4 linked regions of the Homo sapiens genome follow. The protein of the gene in region 1 purifies or fractionates together with the protein of each later gene. This does not show direct contact. Each region holds a gene or a part of one and is shown in the gene's direction. Other genes may lie near its edges.

Region 1 (3,500 bases):
AATCTTTAGAGTCAATTCCTAGAAGTGGGACTGTTGGGTCAAAGGGTTTATTGTACTTTTAAATGTATATTTTAATGATTTACATCAGTTTCTTTACTTCGAATAATAATTGGGTAAGCGAATGATCTCTTTAGTTTTAGGATCTCTAAATTTATCAATCCACTATTGTGTGTGTGCAGAGAGGGTTATCATACCAAAATGATCCAATCTATTACAAGATAGAAAGTAGTAAACACCATGAAGGATTAGGACATAGTGTTCAGGATGTCTGGAAGAGAGAGAAGCCCCAGCTACTGAGTCAGGGAGCTCTCTAGAAAAGAAGGAGCCATTTAAGCTTGACTTTAAAGAGTGGGTAGAACATGGAACTATGGAGAAGCTCAGAACGTGTAGTTTAGGCAAAGGCAATAATGATGGCTGAGGCACTGCTGGGATGCTTGGAAAGAGGGTGGGGCGACCAAGTTTAGATGAGAGTGTGTCCTGACGAGAGTGGGTCCTGGATGTTTAGGCTGTATTTTAACCCTGCTTCTTCTACCTTAGTTCAGTGTGGCTCAAAATGATCAGAATGAAGAATTCAGAAAGCTTGAGAGGCTTTCTGAGTTATGGCTTCTGTGCTTGCTTTTGGGATTCGGTGCTCTGCCTGTGGTTCTCCCAGGACAAATATTAGTACCAGGGAGATCTAGTGGAAACCAGGAGTCCAGACATCTATTGTCCAACCCTGACCTTGCTACCAATCCACTCTGACCTTGTTGATGGTCACGTGAACGCAGGAACCATGGCTGGAATATGTTGCTTCTCTATCTGTGACTATTACAGTGCCTACCTTTCACACAGGAGGGGTCCTGCCTCCAGCTTCCTCTGTGGCATCAGACAAGTCACTTTCTCTCCCTGTACTGGGGTTCCTGGTCTCTGCAGTAAAGGAGATACTGTAGATGGTCTCTAAGCCCATAATTGTACTTTCTCAGATTCTGTGAAAATAGGAGAGATGTATGCACTGTACAAATGGACATTTTTTGTTATCCATGTTCTCAGAGTGCCAAGGGGACTCCCCTCTTTATGCTTCTCAAAGACCCTTACATCCTGGTGGCTGCAGGTAAGCTGGCGATGACCTCCCATTGGGCGGGGAGTGTCTGGGCTTCAAGCAGCCACGGCTGCTCACAGAACAGTCTCCCCAGGGTCCATCTGCTTTGCCAACATGGGGGTGGCCATCCTGGAGCCCACACTGCCCATCTGGATGATGCAGACCATGTGCTCCCCCAAGTGGCAGCTGGGTAAGTGACCTCAGCACCCCCGCTCAGGGCCTGGCAGGAGGAGGTGGGTGCCATGAGTCCTTTCGTTCAATGTCACACAGGGACAACATGCTTCCTTTGTAGAATGACCTCCCACGTCCACACCCATGAATCAAGCCCAAGAGGGTGTGTGGTCCCTCAGAGAAGCAGTCTGAGAAAGGGGAGGGTGAGAGAGGATGAAAGGGGCTATGGAGAGGTCACATACCTAGCTGTGTAGTAGGATGATTAATGATTTCCAGTCCAAAGATTCAGGTTTTGGTTTCAGCTCCTTTGATTTTCTGTGAAAACTTGTGCAGATGCCTTAAACCCTCTGAGCATCACTTTTCTCATTGCTAAAATGAGCATCAAAATACTATCTAGTTCAAGAGAAATTGGATGAATAAATGACATATGAGGTGAAAATGCTTTGTACCCTGTACAATATTAATGTGCACCATTACCATCCACATTCTCCTCCCTTCAGCTCCTCATCCTCAAGACTACCCTTTGGTTATCTTTTTTACCTCTAAAAAGGGGTGTATGTAGCACTCACTTAGGAAAAGCTATGGGCCCAGGAGAGAGGGTTCCAGCTTCCTTTGTTCATGCAGCGACTTAGAGAGGAGCTTGGAGAGGAGGATCTAGCCCTTCCCAGGAACCCTGAGGAAAGAGGACAGGGAAGGCTACGTGCAAATTGCTCCATCACTGCAGGGAGGAGAGGCTTACGGGGCCAGAGGGGAAGCTGATAAGAACATGATATAGTTCAGCATGCAATAAAAAGCACTAAATCTAATTTTGGGGGGGCAATTCTAAGCAAGACTCCCAGCTGCACTCCTAGTGCCAAATTGAATTTTTATGGGTTGCAAGTGCTTTTGACCATGACGATTAATTGAGTTAGTCGGTATTCAGTGCAGATAATTCATCGCCTGCCCTAAGGCTCTGACCACTCAGGGTCTCGATACTAGTGAGCAGCTACAACACAGAGCAGCTCCTCCCCAGCAGCCTAGGGACCATTCTCAGTTGCCAGTTACCAATTACTCAGTTACCAGTCACTCAGTTGCCACCATCTTTTACAGCTTTCTCAATGCTATCTGGTCTGTAAAGTCTGACATCAAAGGTTGTCCAACAACTACATCAGAATCACCTAGAGAGCTTGTTAAAACTCTGATTGCTGGGAGACAGTAGGCAATTTAGTCAAAACAAGTTTTCATCCCTAGTAAGTCTGCAGGTGATGCTAATATAGCTGGTCAGTGATCACACCTAGAAAATCGCTGCTGTACATGAAGAGCATCCCTCAAAGGTGTTGGGAGCCAAAGGAGTCCATGCTTTTGAAAGTAATGTGTAGTCTGCCTCTGAGTGCTTGCTATGTGGCCCACCATATACTAGGTAGCATCACCAAGGGGAGGAAATAGCCCAGGTCCACCTGGGTTTGAATGCTGACCACGTCACTTACTGATTGTGACCTCGGATAAGTTATTTAACCTCTTTGACCTCTGATATGGTGTGAATGTGTCCCCCAAAATTTATATGTTGCAAATTGAATCCCCAGTGCAACAGTCTTGAGAAGTGGGACCTTTGAGAGATGATGAGATCATGGGAGCACCCTCATGAATGGATTAAGGCCATTATCATGGGAGTGAGTTTGTCATAATAAAAGGGGAGTTCAGCTCCCTTTACATCTCTCTCATGTGTGCTCTCTCTCCATGTGACCCCCTTTGGCCATGTTATGATCCAGCAACCAGGCACTCCCCAGGTGGCCAAACAGACACTAGAGGCTTGCCTTTGAACTTCTTAACCTCCAGAACCCTGAGCCAAATAAATCTCTTTCATTGATAAATCATGCACTCTGGTATTCTGTTATATTATAGCAGCAGAAAATGGACTAAGACAGAAAATGGGTAATGAGAAACCGGGCTGCTGCTATAACAAATACTTGAAAATATGGAAGCAGCTTTGGAACTGGAAAATTGGTAGAGGCTGCAATAATTTGGAGGAGCAGGCTAGAAAGAGCCTGTATTGCTGTGGTTAAGGCATTAAGGGTGATTCTGGTGAGGGCTCAGAAGAAGAGGAGAGCTATAGAGAAAGTCTGAATCTTTTTAGACATTGGTTAAGAGGTTGTGACCAGAATGTTGATAGAAATATGGACAGTGAAGGTCATTCTGACGAGGTCTCAGATAGAAATGAGGAACAAGGTATTGGACACTAGAGTAAAGGCCATCCTTGTTATACAGTTACAAA
Region 2 (3,500 bases), on another chromosome or scaffold:
GGTTAATTTTGGGGTGAGACTTGTTATTGTTAGCATTTGTTATCCTTTCACAAACCTCATGTTTGAGTCAGTGATTATAATAGAAGAATAGTAAAGCTGTTTATTTATTGTGTGTTTACCGTGTGTTCTAATTGTTTTGCATGTATCAACTAATTGAATCCTCAGAACAACCCTGTGAGTTTGGTACTGGTACTGTCTCAGGGGTAGAGCTACCCTCATTAGACAGTTAGGACTTGAACTTAGATTCTCTGATTGCAAAATTTGTATTAATTCTGCCCTACTACTACTGTGTTATTCCTGTCCTGCATGGGAGAATATATAGTTCATAACAAGATCAAAATGGCTTTTTGTGTGTGTGTGTGTGTCTAACTAGTATCCAGAGAGAACCTTCTGTAGTGTATAAAATGTGGCAATCGGGGCCAGGCGCAGTATCCAGAAAGAACCTTCTGTAGTGTATAAGATGTGGCAATCAGGGCTGGAGCGGTGCCTCACACCTGTAATCCCAGCACTCTGGGAGGCCGAGGCTGGGGGATAAGTTGAGAGCAGGAGTTCAAGACCAGCCTGGCCAACATGATGAAACCCCCGTCTCTACTAAAAATACAAAAAAATTAGCCGGGTGTTGGGACGTGCACCTGTAGTCCCAGCTTCTTGGGAGGCTGAGGCAGGAGAATTGCTTGAACCTGGGAACTGGAGGATGCAGTGAGCTGAGAACGCACCACTGCACTCTAGCCTGGGTGACAGAGCTAGACTCCATCTCAAAAAAAAGAAAAAAAAGAAAAAAGGACCAGGCGCGGTGGCTCACGCCTGTAATCCCAGCACTTTGGGAGGCTGAGGCAGGTGGATCACCTGACGTTGGGAGTTCGAGACCAGCCTGACCAACATGGAGAAACCCCATCTCTACTAAAAATACAAAATTAGGCAGACCTGGTGGCGCATGCCTGTAATCCCAGCTACTTGGGAAGCTGAGGTTTAGAGTTCCTGAGGTTTGAGGTCAGGAGTTCAAGACTAGCCTGGCCAACATTGTGAAACCCTGTCTCTACTGAAAATACAAAAATTAGCTGGTTGTGGTGGCACACGCCTGTAGTTCCAGCTACTCAGGAGGCTGAGGCAGGAGAATCACTTGAACCTGGGAGGCAGAGATTGCAGTGAGCCAAGATTGTGCCACTGCACTCCAGCCTGGGTGACAGAGTGAGACTCCCACTTGAACCCGGGAGGCGGAGGTTGTGGTGAGCTGAGATTGCATCATTGCCCTCCAGCCTGGGCAACTAGAGTGAAACTCCATCTCAAAAAAAAAAAAAAAAAAAAAAAATTCTGATGTTACTGAACAGAACATAGTAGATTTTTGGGTATGTTGCCAAAAAAGAAAACCATTAGTTTTGACTGTTAAAGGCAGTTCTGAAATCTAGTTTGTAAATTAGTTTAGGTCAGAGCCTGTAGCTTTCTTTCCTTATGCTTAGAGTGATTATAACTATTGCAAATGAAATGAAATTCAATGCAAGACATGTGGCTAGTTTTTCTGCTAATACTATCTTCTGCCACTTTATGGAAAAGTTGACATTATAGTTAATATTTCAGGAGTGGGTTGAGAGATTTCCAACAGGGAAGGAAGCATTTGAGACTTTTCACCTGGTCAGCTGTTTAGTGGTTTCGTATTCTGGGCTTTATAATTATAAGGCATCCTTAGAATCTGATCTTCGTTGGGATAAAGGCAACTCATGAAGGAGCAACAGCCTATAATCTTGAAGGATGCACTATTCAATTTGACCATTTGACATAGCCATGGGAAACTTCAGTTGCAAAAGTTGGCCAGATAATCAGCATGTCAGGTGTCTTCTGAGAGAGCCTCTGCTAGTGCTGGGAATCCTGGTAGCTCTTTTAGAGGATGAGATTTGGGAAGCTGTGTGTTGAACATGATTCTGTGACCATACTGAAATAGCCCCTAAGAGCTAATTGCTTAAATGACCAGAATACAGGCTTCCAAGCTGATCTTTGTAGAAAGGCCAAGGCAAGCCTGTATCATTTAAATTTTAGTTACTTAACCAAATAGGAAAGTTAAGATGGAAAAATGACCACGGATATTTCTATTTTTTATTAATTTCCATTCTGATTTTTTTACTTTCACTGCATTCTGGGTTTTTTTTTTTTTTGAAACTAGAGTCTCACTCTGTCACTCAGGCTGGAGTACAGAGGCACAATCTTGGCTCATTGCAACCTCTGCCTCCCAGGTTCAAGTGATTCTCCTGTCTCAGCCTCCTGAGTAGCTGGGACTACAAGGCGTGCACCATCACAACTGGCTAATTTTTGTATTTTTAGTACAGATGGGGTTTCACAATGTTGGCCAGGCTGGTCTTGAACTCCTGACCTCAAGTGATCTGCCTGCCTCGGCCTCCCAAAGTGCTGGGATTATTGGCTTGAGCCACTGCACCTGGCCCACCACATTCTGTTTTGAATTATGCTTTCAGTAAACTATAATATGTGATCAAGGCCATTGTCAGTGAGAATAGTTGGCACAGGAGCATTGACCTTGTTCAGAAGATAGATGTTAAAATTGAAGTCACTGCCAGTGTTCTCAGATGGTTTGATCCCTGTTGCTGAGCTCTCGTTTCAGACCTGGCCTTGATGCTTCCCATTTTATATGGCTTGTTTTGCCCATGTATTTTTTCAATTCAATAAGCAGACTTTTAAAATTGAGTAAATAATGTATGGTGCTGTCCTCAGAGGGCTTATAATTCAGTGCAGAGACAGATTTATGTGCAAATGTAAATAACATACACAAAGCACGGTAAGTAAACTGCCTAACACAGTTCTTTGGAAACCTCAAGAAATGAGAATGGTATTTGAGGCTAAAGGAAAAATAGCTTGAGCTGAGACTTGGAGATAGGGAAATATTATGCAAAACAAAAAAAGCTGAGTAAGTCTGTTATGATGGGAATGGGGGTGCTACGGCTGTGTGAAGTACTGGGAAAGGGGATCAGCTGTGTGGTTTGAGACTTGGCCCATGCTGCCTTTATGATTTGAGATCTTGGACAAATTACCTTACCTTTGCAAGTCTCAGTTTCTTCCTCATAAAATTGGAATGACAAGATTCACTCATAGTATTGTTAGGATTAATGTATGTGAAAATGTACTGTGTAAACACTTAAGCTCTTATAAATTATTATTATTTTTGGTGTGGGATGTAATAGCAGATGATGCTGTGGAGATAGGTTGGGACCAGCATGTTGTAGGAATGCCAACAGAACTAGTTTGGACTTTGTTCTGTAGACAGTAGAGAACCATCAGAGCTTTTAAGCAGGAGCGTAACATGAGTAGGTCTGTTTTGTACGGGTAACAGGTGGCATTGGTGTAACACTGATTGCAAGGATCCGGAGATCAAGAGCAGCAAGACTAATTAGGAGGGTATCACAATGGCCAAGTAAAAAGAAACTTAGGGTCTGAGTTGGGACAGTGGAAGTGGATTTGGCAAGGAGTTAATATAATGTAAAATCCCTAAAATAGGG
Region 3 (3,500 bases), on another chromosome or scaffold:
CAAAGGATCCAGCGGATGACCAGAAGGATCCAAATGATGAGATAGCCTATCCTTGAAGGTGCTGATGGCACCTCCTGGAGGTGCTTTTTTGACACTCTTGCCCCAGGCAAGTATTCCCCTTGCACTTTGTATTTCTCTCCCACACTTAGGTATCCTTCTTGTCACAGTCTTCTCTGTCCAGGGCTGGACTGTCTTACTCTTCTTTCATGTCCAATATCTGGAACATTCATTCACTGAGTACTTCTTCCCACCCTGCTGATCCCCAGCCTGATTTCCTGGGTGGTCAGCGTTGGGTTTGAGATGTCGTCTGAAGTTGTAAGCAGAAATAATGTAGCTGCTGAAGGAATAATGCCTGGGGGTGGAGATCTGGTGAGCTTTTAGTGAGCATTAGGCAATGGAAGGTTCTAAAAGGCCAGCAGAATTCTTTGAAAAGTTCATTTAAAGCCCTTTGTCCCAAGGCTGTAGGCTGCAGAGTTCTTCCAGGTCCACCTCCTCCACTTTGTGACATTTCAGCTTGCGAGGAATTAAATTGTCGTTAAAACACATTTCAGTTCTAGGCATGAGTTCAAGGTAGCCTGGCGTTCCTCTCGCCCCTGGCCATGAGAACTTTGAAAGGGCTTTGGCAGCACTGGTTGGCCTGGCATGAGGAGCTCATAGCTTGAGGCTCATGCCCCACCTGTCCATAATGTTCTTATTTTCCCATCATGAGCATGGACTTGGGTTTGTTACATGTCCGATACCATTATGGTCAGTACTATGCAGATGACGAAGCAGCCCTGTCCCCCGTCTGACTCCCATGGCTGCTTCAAGGGCAGTGTGGTTATTTGCTGGGCAGTGGCATGGGGCTTGTGCATTTCTACTGTCACTACAGAGGGTTTAAAAAAAAGACATGGGCAGGTTAAGTGGAAGGGAACAGTCTCACACCACTACCTTTATTGCTTCTTGGTACTTGGGTTTTCAGGAAATTCCTATCAGCAGACATCAAAAACAGAGAATGAAGGGACGCAGTTGGCATGTGCCTGTGGTCCCAGCTACTTGGGAGGCTGAGGTGGGAGCATCGCTTGAGCCCAGGAGGTGAAGGCTGCAGTGAGTATGATCACGCCACTGCACTCCAGCCTGGGTAACAGCGCAACCCTGTGTGTAAAAATAATAATTTTTTAAAAAGATTAAAACCAAAAAAAAATTGTAAACAGAGTTCAACGTAACTTACAGATTAAAAACAGTAAAATATGACAGAAACTGAGAGGTAGTCATGATCAGATATGGCCTCCTTCGGGTGCCGACATCTGAACTGAGACCTGAATGATGAAAAGGGCCAACACTGCAAAAATTCAGGGAAGGAACATTTGGAACAGAGAGAACAGTCAAGTACAGAGGCTCCCGGATGTTCAGGGACAGTAAGCAATGAGAGAATGAGAAGACCAGAAAACTAGGGAGGGGCCAGATCATGTAGGGCCTTAGAAAGCCATGGTAAGGGTGTGGTAAGAAGTTTGGGTTTTATTCCAATAGCAATGGGGAGTCACAGGAGGGTTTCTGGTGGGTACAGCAATCTGCTTTGCACTTTAAAAGGCTTGCTCTGGCTGGAGGTGGAGAGGATGAATTATAGAGGGTAGGTATAATCACAGATATAACCTCAGTGAGGCGGCTGGAGCGAGTCCAGACCAGACCACGGAGGAGCAGGTGAAGCCAATGGATTTGGGATATGTTTTGGAGGCAGTGTAAGCAACGCTTGCTGAGGACCTGGATGTGGTGGTGAGAATCACCCCATCTCGAGCAACATTAACTGAGGAAAAAATTGAAAAAGGGGCGCCCTTGCTTGGGGGCTTCCTATTGTGGAACTGTTATGGAAAGGAGCCCCATCCATTGCTTCCTCCTTGAATGGCAAATGCCTTTATGATCCCTATAACTTGTCCCATTATGTTTAGACCCTTGGTGGTCAGAAGGGTTCTATTTAGGGCAGTGTCCCCTGCCCCTCCTTGTCCTCCAAAAATTTTGGGAGGCACTGACGTGGATGTCATGGGGTCAGCACAGGCATCAACATCCCCAGAGGGATGGAACCAAGCAGCCTATTGCCCAGGCATTCACTAACAGGCAGCCCATCCTCAGCCTCATAGCTGGCCGGGGAGAAGAAAGGCTATTTTGGGTCCCAGATCTTTTTTTTTTTTTTTGAGACAGAGTCTCGCTCTGTCACCCAGGCTGAAGTGCAATGGTGCGGTCTCAGCTCACTACAACCTCCGCCTCCCGAGTTCAAGAGATTCTCCTGCCTCAGCCTCCTGAGTAGCTGGGACTACAGGTGCGTACCACCAAGCCTGGCTAATTTTTGTGCTTTTAGTAGGGACGTGGTTTCACCATGTTGCCCAGGTTGGTCTCAAACTCCTGGGCTCATGCAGTCCGCCTACCTCAGCCTCCCAAAGTGCTGGGATTACAGGCATGAGCCACTGCACCCGGTCTCTGTTTACAAATTTATCACCAGCTTCATCCCCTAAGGTTATAAGCTCCATGAGGGTGGGAAGTCTGTATTGTTCACCTCTGTATCCTAAGCATCTAGAACATAGCCCGGCACACAGTAGGTGCTGAAGAACTTGAATCTGTTAATGTAGAAAGGATGTTTCATCTAGCTGAAGTGTCTTGTACAGAATAAACTCTCAATAAATGAACTGTGGACACATGGAAGGGTGAGCTAGAGCTCTGCTCAGGGGTTGAGTGCTCCTCTTGTGCCCTTGTGGTTGTCTGGTTACCTGAACTAATTGGAGTGCGATGCAGACATAGTCATGGAGTGAGACAGCAGAACTTTGCTGTCTTGTTTGTGAGCCCACATCAGGGGTTCTAGACTGGCTGGTTGACATGGTGGCCCCAGCCTGTCTCTTCAGCAGCTCGGCTTATAAAAAATAACCACCACCTACTGGGGAAAACTGCTGGAACCTTCAGATTGCCAAATTGTTCTTGGTGTCTTTTCCAGAAATATTTGCCAAACTCGAATTAGCCTTCAGGAGATTTGATAAAGCTCATGTTTAAGTCAAGAGACCAAAAGATTTTGATGGGGAGAATTAGGGGCTGGATATAGAGGGAATACTTAACCTGTATAGGGGCAGATATGGTTGTCCATGGAGATTCTGGTGTGAAAAAGTACGATGGCGGCCGGGCGCACTGCCTCACACCTGTAATCCCAGCACTCTGGGAGGCTGAGGTGGGTGGATCACCTGAGGTTGGGAGTTCAAGACCAGCCTGAACAACATGGAGAAACCCCATCTCTACTAAAAATACAAAATTAGCTGGGCGTGGAGGCACATGCCTGTAATCCTAGCTACTTGGGAGGCTGAGGCAGGAGAATCGCTTGAACCCAGGGAGGCAGAAGTTGTGGTAAGCCAAGATCGTGCCATTGCACTCCAGCCTGGGCAACAAGAGCGAGACTCCGTCTAAAAAATAAACAAAAAAGTACGATGGGAGAAAGGGGAGAGGGCAGTGGGGCCTGGAAACCTCATGACAAAGAGAATGAACAC
Region 4 (3,500 bases), on another chromosome or scaffold:
CTGAGGACAGAGGGAAGCCACTGGAGGAGAGTTGCGTGATCAGATCAGTGCCTTCGAGTGATGGCCCCAGCCTGCAGCAGAAAGGATGCTGGAGACAGGAGTACACCCAAGACTAGAGGCAGGGAGGTGGCAAAACTGAGTGCAGCATGGGTACGGAGAAGGGGACAGAAGAGAGAGCAGGTGGGAGAATCCACAGGTCTTGGTGACTAATCGTGCATGGACCTAGGGGAAAAGGAAGTAAGGGTGTTACCTAGGTTCCTGGCTTGTGCGCTGGGACGATGGTGCACTGGTGCCATTTGTTGAGGGAAGAGGCAGAGAAACAGGTCTGGAGGGGAGGTGATTACTTCTGTTTGGGGTATGTTAAGTTTGAGATGTTCAAATGAAGAAGTCCTAGGTTGAAAGGTGAAGAATGGGTCTGAGTACAGAGACCAGAGATGGATGTAGATTGAGAACCAGTGGTGTGCCGGTGACTTCTGAAGCCATGAGAGCAGGTCTTAGCACTTGAGGACTGCGTAGGGAAAAGCTCTCCAACCGCGTGTGTCCTCTGCTCTCACCGCCAACAGTCAACACAGAAGAAGACTTGTGTGACCGGATGTATAGGAGTTTCCCCACACACCAAGCAGCGGCCACCAGCTAGGTGTCTCCGCATTCTGTTCTGACACTGCCTACCTGGAGATAGTGTCAGAGCCCACGGGTTGAGGGCTCAGCAGCAAGTCCAGGCTCTGGAACCTCTGACCCACCAGCTTCAAGGTGGGGTTTCCATGGCTTCCTGTTTGGATTTGATTAATTTGCTGGAGCAACTCACAGAGCTCAGGGAAAACCTTATGTTTATGGGTTTATTATACAGGACACTGCAAAGGATACAGATGAAGAGACACATAGGGCGAGGTATGGGAAAGGGGCATGGAAGCTCCCCGTCCTCTTGGGTTTTTATGGGAGCTTCATGACATCAGCATTCCTTCCCCCGAGGTCTAGGGGGGACCCTCTCCTGGAGGTCTTAAGACCCACCGTCAGAAAGGCGGAGAGGGAACAGTGGAGTGGAAGGAGGGCAGGAGAAGGTGGGGTCCTAGCGCCCCTGAGGCTCACGCACCTGGCATTCTATCAAAAGACTAACCAGGGCCGTGAGGAGCCAGGAACGGGGAGGAAAACCAGTGTCTCTCATCACACCCCAGGAACGTGGCTTGGGGCACTCTGGCTTTTATGGGTTGAGTGGAGGAGGAGTCACAGAGCAACTGAGGACCAGCCCAGGAGTGGGAGAAGAAGGTGTGGTGGCTGCTGGCCATGTAAAATCCTGTCAGAAACTTCTAGGAGCTTCTTGAAGACAAACTTGAACCTCATTTGGAATGTCAGATGTTGCTTATTCTTCTCATTCTTAAGTAACCTTGACAGAGTTAAACACTTCTGTTCCGACTATGGGATGTGAATGCAGTACTTGACAGAGTTAAACACTTCTGTTCCGACTATGGGATATGAATGCAGTACTTGACAGAGTTAAACCCAGGAACTATAAACAACTGCATTCAAGTCACCTGTACATGAATTTTCCACGGGGGAGCAGGGCTGCCTCCCAAACCACTTACCAGGGAGGAAAGATGCCCAGAGGGGACAGTGACTGCCTGCTACCTGAGCGTGAGAGGGCACCGGGCACCGCAGGGGCCCACTCTGACCTTGCTCCCGCGCCTCATTCCTAGTTACAGTCTGCACTGTAGACATCCAGCCTCCAGCACCTCCCCCCACCACATGAGTCCCCATCCAGCAAGTAAGGTCCACACTTGACTCCCTGCGGTAACTACTCTTCAGCAGTGAAAACAAGCAGCAAGTTTTGCCAGGCAATAGTTATTTATACTGACTTTTCCGAGATGGAGTCTCACTCTGTCACCCAGGCTGGAGTGCAGTGGAGCGATGTCGGCTCGCTGCAACCTTGGCCTCTCAGGTTCAAGCGATTCTCCCGCCTCAGCCTCCCAAGTAGCTGGTACTACCAGCGCACACCGCCACGCACGGCTGATTTCTTTTTTATTTTAGTAGACAAGGTTTCACCGTGTCACCCAGGCGGGTCTCGATCTCCTGAGCTCAGGCAGTCCGCTCGCCTCGCCCTCCCAAAGTGCTAGGATTACAGACGTGAGTCACCGCACTCAGCCCTGACTTTTCTCATATTCACAAAAACTCATTCCCTCAGCAGTGGGCAAATATGAAAAAGACAGCAATCCAGTGCCCATGAAATAACTTTCAGAGGAAAGTTACAGGGGAAAATTTGCAGCTGGAGTCCATCCACAAATTTTGTACTTCAGTTAAGCTATTAAATTTATATTATTCACTTTTTGACTTAGTGACTTCCTAACCTGAAGGCAATGAAAACTCTCAGTGTTTAGAGCCATAGTTTATGAGGTTATCAGCCATAGAAGATGCAGTTTTCACAAAGCATCTAAATCCATGCAGCTGTGTAAATGAGGCCTTGTTCTCATGGCTCTGTTCCATTCAGAGAGCTTCCTATTGGAATTGTTTTTGATAAAGGGGAAAGACCATAGACTGTCTATCAAAGGACAACATTAGATTCCTTTGAAAGGCTTTTCATTATTTTCCATTAAAAAAATCCTTGCATTTGTGCATGCTTTTTGCATGCTTTTTATGTTTTTTTAAGTACTTACGCCTATTAACTTATTTATCCTTATAACCCTTTGACGTAGGTAGTGAAGGAATTATTCCTAATAGCAGAAACCCATAAAATGTTAGTATGGAAATTAGCTTGAACCCGCTTCTCTAATCCCTTTCTGCCCTTTTCCCCTTGTTGATTTCTAGTGCGGTGGAGTAGCTTTCTGTTACATTCTGCGCAGATGACTTGCTGGCTTGCTCACTGGCCTCATCACCATGATTTCAGGCTAGAATTCTTGCTGTGGCCTCCATGTGGGCCTGTCCTCTGCTCCTCTGCACGGCGGCTGCCCTGGAGCTCTCCCATGCCCCTACTCCCTCCTGCCCTTTGTTCATCTCCAGAACATTCACGTGCCACCTTGGGGATGGGGAGAGGGATGCTGTGGTTCCCCCTTTGAGTTCTTCCCCCTGAACTTCACCCTCTATCTCGGTCCCATTGACCTCCCAAGCTCTTCTTTCATGGTTCCCACTCCTTCTCATTCCATAGAAAGATCAGCAGCTGACTTGAGAAGGAACTTTCCTTCTCAGTGAAAATAACAGTTGCTCTACTTCTGAACTCCAAGGCCTACTTTTTGCTGCAGATAGGAAGGCTCAGCAGGTTACCCTCATCTTGTTGGTAAGTGGCAAGTTGTGGTCCCTGCCTCGCCTTCTTTACGGTTATTGTACAGTCACAAGGGGCGTGGGGGGATAGTGCAGATTTTAGCAAGGCTGCTGTGAGAAGCTACTGCCTCTGTGCAAAGAGTCTAGTTGGGAATGAAAGGGGTGGCCCCAGCCCTTTTAATAGTTCTCTTCCATGTCTGGAACAGAAGCAGCCAAAAAGGACATTGAGCAGAGGGTGGTAGACTCCTGCCAAG

What was found. The genes of interacting proteins can lie anywhere in the genome.
Region 2: the proteins of SLC18A1 (region 1) and ECPAS purify together in Homo sapiens (affinity purification with mass spectrometry; 2 studies listed by BioGRID and IntAct, with this or other methods). This does not show direct contact.
Region 3: the proteins of SLC18A1 (region 1) and FADS1 purify together in Homo sapiens (affinity purification with mass spectrometry; 2 studies listed by BioGRID and IntAct, with this or other methods). This does not show direct contact.
Region 4: the proteins of SLC18A1 (region 1) and EMC8 purify together in Homo sapiens (affinity purification with mass spectrometry; 3 studies listed by BioGRID and IntAct, with this or other methods). This does not show direct contact.

What each region holds. Positions count from the first base shown.
Region 1 is NC_000008.11:20,162,637-20,166,136, reverse strand, and holds part of SLC18A1 (chromaffin granule amine transporter), read left to right. Parts: intron 1-1,029; coding exon 1,030-1,090; intron 1,091-1,172; coding exon 1,173-1,268; intron 1,269-3,500.
Region 2 is NC_000009.12:111,474,384-111,477,883, reverse strand, and holds part of ECPAS (proteasome adapter and scaffold protein ECM29), read left to right. Parts: intron 1-3,500. UniProt on the Homo sapiens protein: Adapter/scaffolding protein that binds to the 26S proteasome, motor proteins and other compartment specific proteins. May couple the proteasome to different compartments including endosome, endoplasmic reticulum and centrosome.
Region 3 is NC_000011.10:61,807,004-61,810,503, reverse strand, and holds part of FADS1 (acyl-CoA (8-3)-desaturase), read left to right. Parts: intron 1-3,500.
Region 4 is NC_000016.10:85,793,045-85,796,544, reverse strand, and holds part of EMC8 (ER membrane protein complex subunit 8), read left to right. Parts: exon of another isoform or gene 1-3,262; intron 3,263-3,500. UniProt on the Homo sapiens protein: Part of the endoplasmic reticulum membrane protein complex (EMC) that enables the energy-independent insertion into endoplasmic reticulum membranes of newly synthesized membrane proteins.